2 separate regions of the Homo sapiens genome follow, and region 2 is linked to region 1. A link means that fine-mapping ties the variant in region 1 to the expression of a gene that starts in the linked region. Tissue or cell type: pancreas. Region 1 holds a variant in brackets; the other region holds the start of a gene. All regions are shown on one strand. Distances are between the middles of the regions.

Region 1 (8,101 bases):
GGTGCGGAGGAGCTCCCAGCAGTGGCGGCGGCAGCCCACACGGCTGTTCGTGGTGGTCCTGGCCTCTGTCCTGGTGTTCCTCATCTGTTCCCTGCCTCTGAGCATCTACTGGTTTGTGCTCTACTGGTTGAGCCTGCCGCCCGAGATGCAGGTCCTGTGCTTCAGCTTGTCACGCCTCTCCTCGTCCGTAAGCAGCAGCGCCAACCCCGTCATCTACTTCCTGGTGGGCAGCCGGAGGAGCCACAGGCTGCCCACCAGGTCCCTGGGGACTGTGCTCCAACAGGCGCTTCGCGAGGAGCCCGAGCTGGAAGGTGGGGAGACGCCCACCGTGGGCACCAATGAGATGGGGGCTTGAGAGCCGCCCACAGGTGCTTCCCACCTGTGCGAGCCCATGCCCTGGAGATTCCCGAGCCGTGAGCTGCCTCCCACCTCGTCCCTGCCAAGTGTCTGGCCCGCCTTCTTGGGGGAGCCCCAAGGACTTTGCAGCTGCATGTGGGGGTCACTTCCCTGCATGTCAAAACTCCCCACAACACCTGTGTCCTGGATCTCACAATGCAACCCCGCTGGAAGATGCAATTTATTTGTTTATAGCAGATTATCTGGTTGGGGGAAAATATTAGCTTTTAGCCCTACCCTGCTTTAAGCTGGTTATCTATGGGTGGATAACAGGAATCTCATTTGAATATGAAAGCTTTCTCCCAACCACCTTCTCTGCCTAAGACGGCATCTTTGTGGAGGAGGCAGGTGACCTCGGGTGATCTTTGGCCCTATGCTGGTCCTTGGGTGGCATCAACTGGCCACCAAGGTGGTGCCCCCGTGCACCTTTCCCCAGGTGTGCCTGAAGTCTGGCAAGTAAACGGTGTCGCCATCGCCGACCCGGATCTCGCTGGCTGTGGGCCATGAGACTCTGCCCCACCATCCCTCTGACCCCTGGCCAGCCCTTGACCCCTGGCATTTGCTATGAGGTCGCCTTACCCTGTCACCCCTCGCACCCAGGGCAGGCCTGTTCGCTTTCCTCCAGGCCGCACTGGGAAGGGAAGAGCCTCTGCCTGGCTTCACTGGCAGTCACTCCAGCAGATGCTGATAGGACAGTGCCCCAGGCAGTGGAGGGCAGCCTTCCAGGCAGTGTCCCCCAGAGCCAGAGTCTCATACCTCACTGACTGTCCCTCCCAGGGCCCCCTCACTTTGCCCAAAAGCCCAAAGACGGAACATCTGGGACACACATCAGCTGGCTCCACTCTCCTCCCTCCCCCTTTCCTTCCCACAGTCCCCTGGGTCCAGAACAAGGCAGATGTTTCCTGCACTTTCCACAAATCACAGCCCTTTCCTACCACCCAGCATCCAGCCTCGAGGCTCGGGGCTTGCATGGAGGGGGTGCAAGACAGGAGGTCCCTGCAGAGTCAGTCCTGGACTTAAAGAGGTGAGGGAGGAGGAAAGACGGAAGTGGAAAGATCCTGTCTCCAGACCACAGCCTGGCCTGCAAGCCTGGCACCTGGCTGCGTCATCCTGTTTTTCATGTCAGAAGGTGAAAATGATCTTGTTCTTTCTCTTGGCATCTTTCTGAAGCAGTTTTCAGTCTCCTCCCAAAAGATGGAGCCTTCGAGCCAGCCAGGGCACAGGTCAGATCCTGAGACAGGAGAGGACAGCTCATCAGTAAGCTATAAAATACACCCCTGGAATCAACTCTCACAGCCTGCGGTTCTGTGCCGTGGCAGGTGATGGTGTCCTGGGGACTCGAAGACTGTGCCCTGGACAGGACTCCCCTTCCTGGGCTCCCCCTGTTTGTTCATTGCCCTGGGCTGGGGGCTGTGCAGCCCTCCCAGAAGGAGAAATTACCTCTGAGTGCTTTCCCACCTAGGGCTCAGGCCCCCAGGTCTGTGTGTCCCAGAGAAGCATGCGAGGCAGAGTGGTGGCTCTTTCTCAGTCGTTCCAGCATTTAGCGGAGCACTTGGTACCAGCACTGGCCTCAAATGCCAGATGCACTTAACAAGTGCTCATTTGGCCAGTAAGAGTAACTGATGCCTGTACAGTGCTTTACAGCCCACGTTTTGTCCAGGATCCAACCCATATCTTCTGACTACAAACCCCATGCTTCACAACCCTTCTCCAACCTGGGCAGCCACGAGGTGGCCCAGTCTAAAGCCGACGGTTGGTAGGAAGAACATCTCGCTTCTTAGCACTCAGTGGCTACCACAGGGCCCCTCATTTGCAAGGGGAGGAGCCCTAGAAATTGTTCACACAATGATGTTATGTTTCGATAAAACATATAAAATGATATATCTGTTAGACCTTCTACTCCGGTACCTCCATCACACTCCACTTTAGGTCAGGTGGCACTGGTGTGCCCACAGGTATTTGGGGGGTGGGGCTGAGTGGAAGAGGAGTTAGGGGGTCCCTGCAGTTTGGGCTTAGTGAGGTGCATTTATGTGGTTTCCGATCACTTCTGTGTGTGGTTAGGCAATTGCTAGCACCCCAGGGTAGGAATGGCTCCCAGAAACGTTGCCACTGCCTGCTGTGCCAGCTCCCCGGGCATCGTGCAAAGAGCTGCCTGAAAAAATGAACAGATAAAGGAAGTATGTGGGGGAGTGGGTAACAGAGAAGAAATAAGATTTGAAATGTACAGAATCAGAAGCTAGCTTATAGAAGAATCCTCCAATCCCCAGATGTACAACTCTAAATGGGGGGTTCTGTTCTCACGGGTGCCTGCTCAGAGCAGGTCTCACCTGTTAGCAAGATCCTTGCTAATGCAGCATGTGTAATCAGAACACATACCATACCTCTTTTCTCCTGGGAAATGTGAAAGTACCATTCATGAGACACCCTGTTTTTGTATCCAAAATGCTGGAGCAGGAATACAAATGGCAAAAACGTCTCTGTGTGAAGTTGCATGTTTTATGTATCCAGCTATCACTCACTTAAAATAAATCCAATCAATGAGGAAAAACACAATTATCTTTCTCTTTTCTCCATAGAAAGTGTACAAAATTGATCTATGAAGAGGCAAGCAACAGTATGCAGCCAAAAATGTAGGACAAATATTAGAAAGGTTTGTTAAGCAGCTAATTATTAAAAATATTATAGGGCTTTTAATATTTTATGAAGTTTGTGTTACCTGCTCTTGCTTAAAAAACAATGTTTGATTTACTTTCTCATTCTAAATAAGTATTCATTTTCATACCTAATTTTGTATTTGTAACTTTCCTTCCTTCTTTTCTTCCCCCTTAAAAAGGGCCCCAAATCCTGTAGAAATTTTAGGTTCCATAAACCCTGGATCCAACCAGGAGCAGCGAGCCCTCTGGCCACACTAGAGCGCTGGAGATTTCCGTGTGAATAACCATAAAATTCCAGTAGCATAGTCCACACTGTCTGACAGCTCAATCCTTTGCTGAAACAAGTTTTCTTGTTGAGCCCCCGATTTCCCCAATCCCATCCCAAGGTTCAGCCCTGTGGGGTCCCAGGTGGGAACCAGATGCGGAGGGAGGATGAGGGTCCTCCCACCACTCACTGATGGGGACAGGGCCTGGCTCTGGGAGTGAGGAGACGGGGGCTCCCCTCTGCCTTCTGGGTTCCCTCAGGCCAGGTATTCCCCCCTGTGGCCTCTTCTTCCCCAGCTGTGTAATGGGAACAATCAACCTCACCCTGCACTCCCCCTGAGGCCCCTGCGGGCTGCCGCAGGAAACTGGATCAAGAACACATGTTCTAAACAATCAAAAGTGATTCCAGAAAGGAATTCCTGACAAGAACAGCTTGATCAGGCCAACAAACACAGCTTGGTTTGGTTTGGAAATAGGTGGCTTCCAGATTGCTTGTTTAATAGAGATGAACAAAGCATACATAAATGCTGCAGACCACAGCGTCAGGAGGCAAACAGTACCAAGTTCTTTATTTTCTATCATGGTACTTTCCTTTCTCTGGAGCCCCCAGTAGGACTCTTGGCAGAGACTTGGGTGCAGTCAGTTCAGGAAGGGCCCAGTCAACTCCAGGCTCCCCACTCCCCATCCCAGGAGTTGCCTCTCAGTCGTGGCCTCCCACGGACTGGACATTGTCTCCTCCATCCTTGTCGTTATCTACTTCCTGTGGCAGCCATTATCAGGTCACCTGATTTTTGTTCCCAGAGTCCCAAATTTATCTGCAACTTCCATCACCTCCACTGGCTAATTGCTGTAATAAAGCGTTCTCAAATCTCATGGTGCAGCATAATGAAAGTTTTCTTGCTTATACCATAGACCAATGCAGGTGGATGGGAGGCTCTGCTCTACTCTGTCACTCAGAGACCCAGGCTTCTGATGATGTAGGACAGGTGAGCCCCCAAACTGGGGCTCAGCCAGGAGAGTTCTTGGCTTTGCCCAGGAAAGAATTCAAGGTGAGCCAGTGGTGCCGGGCACGGTGGCTCACGCCTGTAATCCCAGCACTTTGGGAGGCCGAGGCGGGTGGATCACCTAAGGTCGGGAGTTCGAGACCAGCCTGACCAACATGGTGAAACCCTGTCTCTACGAAAAATGCAAAATTAGCCGGGCATGGTAGTGCATGCCTGTAATCCCAGCTACTTGGGAGGTTGAGGCAGGAGAATCGCTTGAACCCGGGAGGCGGAGGTTGCGGTGAGCCGAGATCAGGCCATTGCACTGCACTCCAGCCTGGGCAAAAAGAGCAAAACTCCATCTCAAAAAAAAAAAAAAAGGTGAGCCAGTG[G/T]TGTTAAGACAGCAACTTTCATTGAAGTGGCAGAGGTACTGCTCCTTGCAAAGCACACTACCCCATAGGCAGTGTGTCCAGATCAGCAGCTCAGAGGCTGTGCTGCACTCATATTTACACCCACTTTTTAAAAAAAAATTTTTTTTTGAGATAGATCTTGCTCTGTTGCCCAGGCTGGAGTGCAGTGGTGCAATCTCAACTCACTGCAACTTCTGCCTCCCAAGGTCAGGTATCCTCCTCACTAAGTCTCCATAGTAGCTGGGATTACAGCTGCACACCATCACGCCCAGCTAATTTTTATATTTTTTATAGAAAGGAGGTCTCACTATGTTGCCCAGGCTGATCTTGAACTCCTGGGCTTAAGCAATCCACCTGTCTCAGCCTCCCACAGTGCTGAGATTACAAGTGTGAGCCACCACACCTGGCCTATACCCACTTTCAATTATATGCAAGTTAAGGGGTAGATTATGCAGAAATTTCTAGAAATAAGGTGGTAACTTCTAGGTTATCAGATCCTGGTCATGGAAAAGGGGCGGTAACTTCCAGGTGTTGCCATGGCAATGGCAAACTGACATGGCACTGGTGGGTGTGTCTTAAGGTCAGGTGCTTTCCCCTCTTCCCTGTCTTCAATCTGGCCAAAAGTCTTCCAATCTGGCCAAAAGTTCAAACCCTGCCTCTGGAGTCGTGGTCCACCTCCTACCTCACTTCTACCTTATGGCTCTGCCCTCTGCCAGATCCTCATGGCCTCTCATTCAGCCAGAGGATGGGAGGAGAAAAGAGGAGAGGTCAAACATGGCAGGCCTCTACCATGAAGCATTCCACTGGCTGGAGTTCAGTCATGTGACCCATACCACAGAGGAGTCTGGGAAATGTAGTCCAGCTGAGAGGTGACAGCGTGCTGGCAGTCATCACAGCCCTCGCTCGCTCTCGGCGCCTCCTCTGCCTGGGCTCCCACTTTGGCGGCACTAGAGGAGCCCTTCAGCCCACCACTGCACTGTGGGAGCCCCTTTCTGGGCTGGCCAAGGCTGGAGCCGGCTCCCTCAGATTGCAGGGAGGTGTGGAGGGAGAGGCGCGAGCAAGAACCGGGGCTGGGCACGGCGCTTGCGGGCCAGCTGGAGTTCCAGGTGCGAGTGGGCTTGGCGGGCCCCGCACTCGGAGCAGCTGGCCGGCCCCAGGCAATGAGGGGCTTAGCACCCAGGCCAGCGGCTGCGGAGGGTGTACTGGGTCCCCCAGCAGTGCTATCCCACTGGTGCTGCGCTCAATTTCTCGCTGGGCCTAGCTCAGGGATTGTAAACGCACCAATCAGTGCCCTGTCAAAACAGACCACTTGGCTCTACCAATCAGCAGGATGTGGGTGGTGCCAGATAGGAGAATAAAAGCAGGCTGCCGGAGCCAGCAGTGTCAATCCGCTCAGGTCCCCTTCCACACTGTGGAAGCTTTGTTCCTTCGCTCTTTGCAATACATCTTGCTACTGCTCACTCTTTGGGTCCACACTGCCTTTATGAGCTGTAACACTCACTGCGAAGGTCTGCAGCTTCACTCCTGAAGCCAGTGAGACCACGAACCCACTGGGAGGAACGAACAACTCCAGACATGCCGCCTTCAGAGCTGTAACACTCACCGCGAAGGTCCGCAGCTTCACTCCTGAGCCAGTGAGACCACGAACCCACCAGAAGGAAGAAACTCTGAACACATCCGAACATCAGAAGGAACAAACTCCAGACGCACCACCTTAAGAGCTGTAACGCTCACCGCAAGGGTCCACGGCTTCATTCTTGGAGTCAGTGAGACCAAGAACCCACCAATTCCAGACACACAGCCATGCACTCTGGTGGGCCAGGAGAGGTGATATAGGCAAGTTCTCACTGTCTCAACCAGAGCAGCTCCTGCCTTGTTTGCAAGAAAGGAAAGAAAGGGGCAGAAAAGGACTGCAGGAAAAGCAAGGCACAATCAATACGCCAAAGCATTGCCCCACGATGCAAATTCATGCTGTTTTCTTTTTCCCTAACTCTTCATGTTGCCATTTGTGATACTGTCTAGGAACTGATGCTCTGAAATTAACAGGATGTTAACATAACTTATTCATGCACTGAATAAACATTTCTCAGACCCCTATTATGTGCCTGTCTCTGTTGTGGACCCCAGGTGAATGTCTGAGCTTTTACTTTCTGTCCAGTCTTTGGGGCACACTGGCCAGTTGTCACGACCTGAGGCCTCCTCTCCCTCATCCGTGCACATGAGACAGAACATCATGGTCTGATTTAACCTTCAGGTCACTCCCTGAGGTAGGTGGGAACATTGTCTCCCTTAGATAGTGACAGCTGCCAAGTGGCAGAACCAGCCCTGGAATCAAATTCCTCTGGCCGCTCCTTGACTGTTGGCTCCAGCTCCTTCTGATTGAAGCGACCTTTGCAAAAATTATAACTGTGGAAATTATGACAGTGAAAGAAATCAGACCTAACCAACTCTGTCTTGCTTCGAACCTTTTAGCTGTCCTGTTCATTCCTGGGCATAGGCCCAACTAACTTTGGGAAGGAATTCAGTTCATGGTTTGACTCTGAAACAAAATTGATAACAGCCCTTTCCCAAAAAGACCCCCTTCTTGCCTGGGGACCAGTCTGCCTTTGCAGGACTAACAAATTAGCTACAAGATTAGAAATTACAGTTTAGGGGTCATGCAGTCTCTGGCTCCAAGAGTCTGAACCTCCCCAAATTGCTCCTGAGGATAATATCACTATTGTAAAACCTAAGATCAGTGCTTGAGATATTTTGCAGACCTTGCACTCGATGGACCAGTTGACACCACTCAGACCGGTAGTCTTGTTCAACCAGTTCTGCCATCCCACCCAGGAACAAAAGACGGCAAGAAAAACTTACTTTGATCCCCTGTGATTCCATCTCCAGCCTGACCAATCAGCACTCCCCACTTCCCAAGCCCCTACCCACCAAATGATCTTTAAAAACTCTGATCCCCAAATGCTCAGAGAGACTGATTTGAGAATTATTAAAACTCCAGTCTCCTGCACAGCCAGCTCTGCATGAATTACTCTTTCTCCATTGCAATTCCCGTCTTGATAAATGGGCTCTGTCTAAATGGGCTCTTGTCTAAATGGGCAAGGTGAACCCATTGGGCAGTTAGACTTCTACCATCTCAGGCTGAGAGGGTCAATAATAGGTGTCCACTATATGCTTGGCATGCGGCACAGCACAAGTGTGTCTCAGAGGAGGCATTAAAGTAAAGCCATCCAGCACATTCAACAGGTCATTGCTGCTGCTTTTTTTTATTTTTATTTTTATTTTTATTTTTATTTTTGAGATGGAGTCTTGCTCTGTCGCCCAGGCTGGAGTGCAGTGGAGCAATCTCGGCTCACTGCAGCCTCCACCTCCTGGGTTAAAGTGATTCTCCTGCCTC
Region 2 (8,101 bases), 73 kb after region 1:
AATTTAAAACTCCGTCACCACCAAAACAAGGCAGAGACACTTCCATAGTAAAAAGTACAGCCCTGGCAACGCTGCTTCCTCCAGGCTTCCAAGGCTGTGGTTGTCTAACACAAGCATCCCAGGCGTGTGGTTAAGAAGCTTCTTCTAACTGTCCCTCCTTTCCAACCAGGCTGGCACAAGTTTAGCCAAAGCATGCTTGGCACAAGAAAGGGTTGGGAATACAGAAGTACACATCCTGCATGTTTACCAGCTGGACCAAGGCTGCCCATTACATAGAAACATAAAGAGAGTCACATGTAGTTTTTCTTTTGTTTTTGTCTGTTTTGAGAGAGGGTCTCACTTTGCCCCCAAGCTAGAGTGCAGTGGCGTGATTTCAGCTCACTGCAGCCTCAACCTCCCAGGTTCAAGCGATCCTCCTGCCTCAGCCCATCAAGTAGCAGGAACTACAGGCACACACCACCACATCTGGCTAATTTTTCTATTTTTTTGCAGAGATGGGGTTTTGCCACGTTGCCCAGGCTGGTCTCGAACTCCTGAGATCAAGTGATCCACCCACCTCGGCCTCCCAAAGTGCTAGGATTACAGGCACCCAGTCACGTGTAGTTTTAAGTTTTCTAGTAGCCATATTAAGAAATTTAAAAGAGGCTGGGTGCACTGGCTCACACCTGTAATCCCAGCACTTTGGGAGGCCAAAGCAGGCGGATCACCTGAAGTTGGGAGTTCGAGACCAGCCTGAACAACATGGAGAAACCCCGTCTCTACTAAAAATACAAAATTAGCCAGGCACGGTGGCGCATGCCTCTAATCCCAGCTACTCGGGAGGCTGAGGCAGGAGAATCACTTGAACCCCGGAGGCGGAGGTTGCAGTGAGCCGAGATCATGCCACTGCACTCCAGACTGGGCAATAAGAGCGAAACTCTGTCTCAAAAAAAAAAAAAAAAAAAGAAAAGAAATGGGTAAATTATTTTAATAAGATATTTTTTATTTAACCCAATATATGAAAAATATTATTTCAACATGTAATCAGTATTCAGAAAAATTACTCAAGATATTCCCAATTGTTTTTTTAACATAATCTTCCAAATTTGGTGTGTATTCTGTATCTGCGGCAATTACAAGCCACACTTCAAACATTTGATGACCACGCATGGCTAATGGCTACCATTTTGGACAACGCTGATCTAGACAACTAAAACCCACATCAATTGTTGGACTTCTGATTAAGAGTTCTTCATTGCAACGCTTTATTCTCCAACTGGTCATTTTAATCCAGTCTTTACGAGGGTACAAGTCACGGTCTGAATGCCAGTAAATTTCAATGTCTGTCTAGGTCAATACGCACACACCAGAAGTAAAGCTGTTACTGGGAAGAGCTGCCGCGGACCCGTATCGCCTGGGCTCAAAGGTGACCAGCAGCCGTCCGTACAGCCCAGTGCGCTGGCTGGATACCTGCAGCTTCAGCAAACACACGCCTCGGCTCTGGAGCTCTTTCAGAGAGATGTTCTCCTGCCAGGACCTGGAAGACACCCGGTATTGATGCTTCAGGATTTTTACTAGTTTCTACTTCCACCCACCCAGGAAAAGTAAAAGAGAAAGAAACATAGATAAAGATCTACTCACAGGCACTAAATATGTCCCAATGGAACTCCGAATTGGCTCCACTCCCAATCCCGCTCCTCCTACATCCCCCTAGGGCAGTTAATGCCACAACCCTTCTCTCAGTTACCTGAGACAGATCTTTCAATCAGCATTCCCCTCTCTCCTCCCATCTGTCACTAAGTCCTATCAGGCCCCTCCCATTTCTACCTGGACTTCTCTGCCTCTCATCCTGGCTGCCACAGCCCCGGTTCAAATCCACATCACTGCTCACCTGGACTAAACAGAGCCTCTCAACTACCTTACCTCTGGCCTCTCCACGTCCAATCAAAAGCAGGAGACCCAAGAAATCCTCCTAAAATGCAAAGCTATTCGCCTCCCTCACCTGCTTAACCCCGCTGATGGCCCATCCTTCATACACAGAACAGAAGACTAGCTCCTTAGCCAGGCCCTTCCCAGGCTCGCCCTGCCAGTCTGCTCAGCATCCTCAGAAAGAGCCACTGCCATGGGGGCTGACTCTGTCCTTGGCACCACGCTGAGCACCTGACTGACAGGGGATCGTTTCATTCTCAGAGCAAGCCTGTGAGGTGGGAATCATCCCAGTTTTACAGATGAAGTAAGTAAGGCTCAGAGACAGAACCTGCAAAGTCACACAGCCATAAATGAAACAGCTGGGATTCTAAGAAACTCAACATAACTGCAAAAGCTCTCCATTGCCATGATCAAAAGCATCTCAGACAAATCCTACCCACATATGGCTGACTGCAAACTCTGGAAGCAGACTGCCTGACAGCAAATCGGGCTACACTGTGTCACCCCGGGGCAAGTTACTTAACCCCTCTCTGTCTCCATCTCCTTAGACGGAAAATGACAGTAACAGAAACCTACACTGCGGCCGGGCACGGTGGCTCACGCCTGTAATCCCAACACTTTGGGAGGCCAAGGCGGGCAGACCACGAGGTCAGGAGATCGAGACCATCCTGGCCAACATGGTGAAACCCTGTCTCTACTAAAAATACAAAAAATTAGCAGGACGTGGTGGCGCGCCTGTAGTCCCAGCCACTCAGGAGGCTGAGGCAGGAGAATCGCTTGAACCCGGGAGATGGAAGCTGCAGTAAGCCGAGATCGTGCCACTGCACTCCAGCCTGGGCGACAGAGAGAGACTCTGTCTAAAAAAAAAAAAAAGAAAAAGAAAAAAAAGAAACTTACACTGTAGGGTTGGCATGGGATGAGGTGTAAAAGAATTAACGCATGGAAAGTACGTAAGTGTTAGCTCTGATTGTTTTGGACAAGTAAATAGTCCCATTCGGAAACAAGCCCGGCTCTCACATGGCTCCCCACACCTCTCAGGACGGCTCCCCACCCTACTCCGCACCCACCAGCTTAACTCCAATTTTCCTTCAGGCACCACTCCCTCCTTGAAGCCACCATGACCCTCCCCAGGGAAGGGCCTTCCTCCTCCAGGCTCTTTCCCCGCGACACGCACGCAGCCGGCCCTGGACGCACTGGAGGGGAAGGGACTCTCTGCTTATGCCCAGCCCGCCGCTGGCCGGATCGGGGGCAGCCAGTGCACCTGACTCATGCTGCCGGGGCCTGACTGAGAATGGGCGCAAACCATGTTTACTGAATGAATAAGGGAAAGGGCTGCTAACTCGCTGCGGGTGGAACTGGGGTCGGGGCCAGGGCCCAGGAGTGTAAGCTTAGTGGGGGGTCTCGGGTCGGGAAATCAAAGTGCTTCTTAAGGGTCCCCAAACGGAACGCGCTGCCCAGGAAGTGATGAGACTGACAACTCGGGAGGTGGCCAAGCAGGGGACGGACGATCCCTGCCCCTGACTCGAAGGGTCGGAGACGAAATTCCCGCCCCAGACTATGAGGCCGAGCCCCTCGGAGACTCTGCCCGGGACACGGCGGGACCGACCGCGAGGGAGCGGCGCCGGCGGCCTCCCGTACCTGCGCTCCTCCACCTCCGCGTCTCTCTCAAGCTCCAGCAGGTCCAGTTGCTTGGTCACGAAGCTCTCCACAGCTGCCGAGGCCATCGCCGCCGCCGGCCTGGGCCCCTAGAAGCCGACGTCCCGCTTCTGCGCCGGGCCGGTGTTACAGCGGACCGGTGTTCCCCGCCGGGCCCGTGCGTTACGCACGCGGTTCGCGTCGTTTCCGTTTCCGGCCGAGGCTGCGGCCATGGCAGCATCTTCCCTGACGGTCACCTTAGGGCGGCTGGCGTCCGCGTGCAGCCACAGCATCCTGAGACCTTCGGGGCCCGGAGCAGGTGAGACCTGGGATATGGGAGGAAGGGAGGACGCAGAGCGAGCGCTGCTCCCTGCGGTCTCGCCACGTATGTGCCTGGGTCCGACCTGGTGCCTTGTGTGTTGATCGCATTTGTGGTGAATATAGCACGGGTTTTGGAGTCGGGGGAACCCAGGTTCAGATTTTGATTCCTTCAGTTAGTAGCCTGAATACTGACAATAGCCCTTGAACTTTGGTATAGGCCCTATGTTATGGGGGAGAAGAGTGAGGCTCAGAGGAGCTAGGTAACGTGCCCAGGGTCACACAGCGGGGAAGTGGAAGAAGAGTACTTCAGGCGCAGTCATTTCGGCTCCAAAGCCTGTGCTTGAACCACTGCCCCCAGGCTGCGAGCTGGTCTGAAAAATGGTGATGGATATCCTCGCCTAATCTGAACTCATTCTGCAAAAGAAACAGCCGTATTTAAGGCGCTGGGCTGATACGAGGCTCCAAAAAGGTTATGTCCGTTAAAAACTCTATAAATCTCTGCTTGAAAATGGTTGGAGTGTGTATTTGTGTGCATGAGTGTTTATGTATGTTTTAAACCTGGGTTTCATGTCTCACCATGACCCCCAAAAATGGAAAACTGGATCTAACTCTATATTGGACGATATTAAAAGAATAGTACCATAATTCCCAAAACTTGGAAGCAACCCAGATGTCCTTCAGGAGATGAATGGTTACATAAACTGTAGGACATCCATACAGTAGAATATTATGCAGCAATAAAAAGAAATGAGTCATGAAGAGACATGGAGGAAACTTACATACATGTTACTAAGTAAAAGAAGCCAACCTGAAAAGGGGACATCTTGTATGTTTCCCACTATGACATTCTGGAAAAGGCAAATCTAAGGAGACAGTAAAAAGTTACATGGGGGGTAAGAGGATTGGGGGAGAAAAGGATAAATAGGTGGAGCTCAGAGGATTTTTAGGGCAGTGAAACTATTCTGTATGATATAATGGTAGATACATGTCATTATAAGTTTGTCCAAATCCATAGAATGTACACTACCAAGGGTGAACCCCTAATGTAGACTATGGACTTTGGATAACAATGATGTGTCAATGTAGGTTCATCAATTGTAAAGATTGTACCACTCTGGTGAGGGATGTTGATAGGAAGCTGTGGGCACATGGACAGGGGACATATGGGAACTCTCTGTACCTTCCACTCAATTTTGGTGTGAAACTAAAACTGTGCTAAAAAATAAAGTCTATTAAGAAATTAATAATAATCACAGAGTTGGGCCAGAGGCAATGTAGATGCCAAAATTGGCCATGAGTTGGTAACTGTTGAACCTGGAAAGGGATAATTGAGAGAGTTCACTATTCTGTTCTCTTTACTTTTGTATGCTTGACATTTTCCATAATAAAACTTAGGTTTAAGTAGGCAGGAAAGTTTTTACAAAAGCAGTGGGACTTACTCCATTCTACCTACCTACATGAAACCACCCCTCCAATGCTATGTTCAAGTACAGACTCACGCATTAGGAGAGAAAGACACACAGTGAAGCGAGTAGAGACAAGGTGACCAAAACAGTGAGCAGCTGGGGCCTTGAAGAGTGAGCAAAGGAGACGTGATGGAAGTACACAGTCACAGTCTCTAGGACTACCTAAAGGAAATCCTGTGGGAGAGGAAGGAGACTGTTTGTTCCCTGGGGACCCAAAAACAAAGCTAGAAGCAAATTAGGTACAGAAGCCTGCTAAGTTTTTAATAGTGGGATGGATTTGCCAATGGGTTGACTGAGTAGTGTGCGAGAGAAGAGTCAAAACTGATGGAGGTTTGGGGCCTGAGCAACTGGGAGGATGAAGTTGCCCTCATGTGAGAGGGAGGAGTGTGGGAGAAGCAGGCATGGGAAGAAATGAGGAGCCTCTGGAGGTGTGAGGTGCTCGTCAGACACGAGTGGCTAAGGCAGATAGATAGGTGGGTATGCAAAACCAGGAGAGAAGCCCTGGCTGGAGGTGTAAACTTGGGAGTCACCAGCACATTGGGGGTGTTTAAATCCATCGGACTGGATGCAGTCACCAGAGGAATGGCCATGGGCGGAGAGGAGGTCAAGGCCAAGGGTTGAGCCCCGGATGCCCAAATGGGAGAGGAGAGGAGAAAGCAGCCGAGGAGATGCAAATGGGGAGCTGGTGCTAATGGGTGAACTTTAAAAAGGTGGTTTTTATGGTGTGTAAATTATAGCTGAGTTTCTTTAAAAGTGGTTATTGAGAAACTGTTCTCTGCTTTTTACACCTAAGCACTTATTTTGATCCCCTGTCTTCTCAGTAGATTGAATGTCTTTGTTTCCTGGTGTATTCCTGGTGTATGCGTTATCTACGGTTACATCAGAAATTACCCCAAAACTTAGCAGCTTAAAACATTTATTAACTCACACCAGTTCTGAGAGCCAGGAACACAGAAGCAGCTTAAGTGGCTGGTTCTGGCTCAGGGTCTTAGCTTGCAGCAAGCAAGTCTGCAGGGGCTGTAGTTATCTCAAGACTCCACTGCGCCAGCGGCTGGAGAATCTACCTGCAAGGTCGTTCCCATGGGTGTTGGCGATAGGCCTAGTTCCCCGCCATGTGGACCTCTAGGTAGGGCTGCTCACAGCAGGGCAGCCCTAAGGCCAGAGATCAGAAAGGGTGAGCACAGGCATCCAAGATGGAAGTCCCAGTTGGTTATCACCTCATCCCAGAAGCCACGTGCTAGCATGTCTGTCACTAGCTGTTGGACACACAGGCCACTCCCAGGGGGCTAACAGGGGTAAGAATAGCAGGAGGCGGGGCCCAGCAGGGCCATCTTGGAGGCTGCTCCCACGCTTGGGCACAGATCAGAGTCTGAACCTACCAGGCACTTAGTCAAGGCATGAGTTAGTGGACGGGTGGTTCTGGTCTCAGGCGCTTGTAGATGATGTGGCTAACTGATCTCAACACATATAACCAGTAGCTGTAAGTGACGTTCTTGTAGTTTTGCTCACCTAGGTGTTTCTGTGGGCAGGCTGTCATGCAGTGGTTCATACCATGTACCAGGAGCAGCAGCTGTGCATTTAGCATCATAAAGGGCAGTTTGCATTTGTAGTATTAATGGTAATGATCTGTGTTTCTCTTCTTCCCTCAGCCTCCCTTTGGTCTGCTTCTCGAAGGTTCAATTCACAGAGCACTTCATATCTACCAGGGTAATATCAAAATGTGGGTTTTGGTGCCTCTTTTCCTTTCATTTGTAGAACCATCTTTCTAAAGTCAAAACTTCCTACCTTTTGGTTCTCAATAATATTTAAATTTCCTCTTTTGTTTTTAAGAGACAGAGTTTCACTATGTTTCCCAGACTGGTTTTGAACTCCTGGCCTAAAGTGGTCCTCCCGCCTCAGCCTCCTGAGTAGCTGGGATTACAGGCATGCACCACCACTTTCAGCTTTAACTTTTTTGACGGTATTTTTCTGAGACCCTTAAAAGAAGACGTAACTGCAAGAGACCAAAGAGAAATTCTGTATGTGTTTGCTCTCTTTTATTATGGAGGAGCTTGAAGTCTTAACTCAAGATTTCTGATGAGGAAGTTTGTATCAGAGTCTCTAAGAGAAACTCATTATTTGAAAAAGCACATTCAGTGTTAAAATTTTATACTTGAGAAAACATTTTTAGGTATCATAAACTGCAGAAAACATTCGACAAAGTTCCACTCACTGGTGGGAGACACAGGAGCAGTGCAGGGATAGCAGTTACTGTAGGGACCCCCCCGGGGTGCAGTTCCGGCTGCCCCTCACAGCCTGGGACGCCAGGCTTCTGCAAGATGGAAGTAATGTTCATTTCTATCTGCATGGGTGTTGGAGAGGATTAAGTAAATGTATACATTTAAAGCTCTTAGAACAGTGCCTGGCATACAGTCAGCACTCACAAAACATTGGCTGCTGGAACTGCTGCTGGGACTCCAGGGATCCTCTGCAGTGGGGAGATGTGGGAGTCTTTCTTGCTTCTCAAAGAAGCGGCAAAACATTCTGAGCATAGGAAGAAGTTGTAAGTGAGCATGTGGGTAGGTTGTGCCTACTACCCCTGTGTCCTGTGTGAGAGGTTAGCACCTTCCTGCCAGCGTGTTCTTCTCACACTGGGCACTGCTGAACCCGTATGGGGAGACTAGACATCAAACAGGTCAAAGACGTTTTGTAGAGAGCAGCACCTTCCTTGTCCTCCTTGTCTCTCAAGGTCATTGACCAACCACAGATCACGGAGTTCATGTCTCTAGGAG

Evidence for each region. PIP is the estimated chance that this variant, and not a neighbour inherited with it, causes the effect.
Region 2: it holds the start of IGHMBP2, and the variant in region 1 is fine-mapped to the expression of IGHMBP2 in pancreas (GTEx, PIP above 0.99). The same link has a PIP of 0.9 or more in ileum.

What each region holds. Positions count from the first base shown.
Region 1 is chr11:68,972,275-68,980,375 of GRCh38, reverse strand. It overlaps MRGPRD (MAS related GPR family member D), which reads left to right. Exons shown (of 1, transcript NM_198923.2): 1 at 1-355. The coding sequence ends at 355. Among named protein-coding and RNA genes, the nearest start is that of MRGPRD, 4.7 kb to the left of the region's middle. RefSeq lists an enhancer at 1-410. The variant G/T (reference allele first, on the strand shown) is at 4,690.
Region 2 is chr11:68,899,484-68,907,584 of GRCh38, reverse strand. IGHMBP2 (immunoglobulin mu DNA binding protein 2) reads right to left here and starts at 3,694. Exons shown (of 15, transcript NM_002180.3): 1 at 3,547-3,694; 2 at 1,347-1,516. The coding sequence starts at 3,632. MRPL21 (mitochondrial ribosomal protein L21) reads left to right here and starts at 3,753. Exons shown (of 7, transcript NM_181514.2): 1 at 3,753-3,862; 2 at 6,980-7,037. The coding sequence starts at 3,775. RefSeq lists enhancers at 3,212-3,271, 3,602-3,721, 3,153-3,880.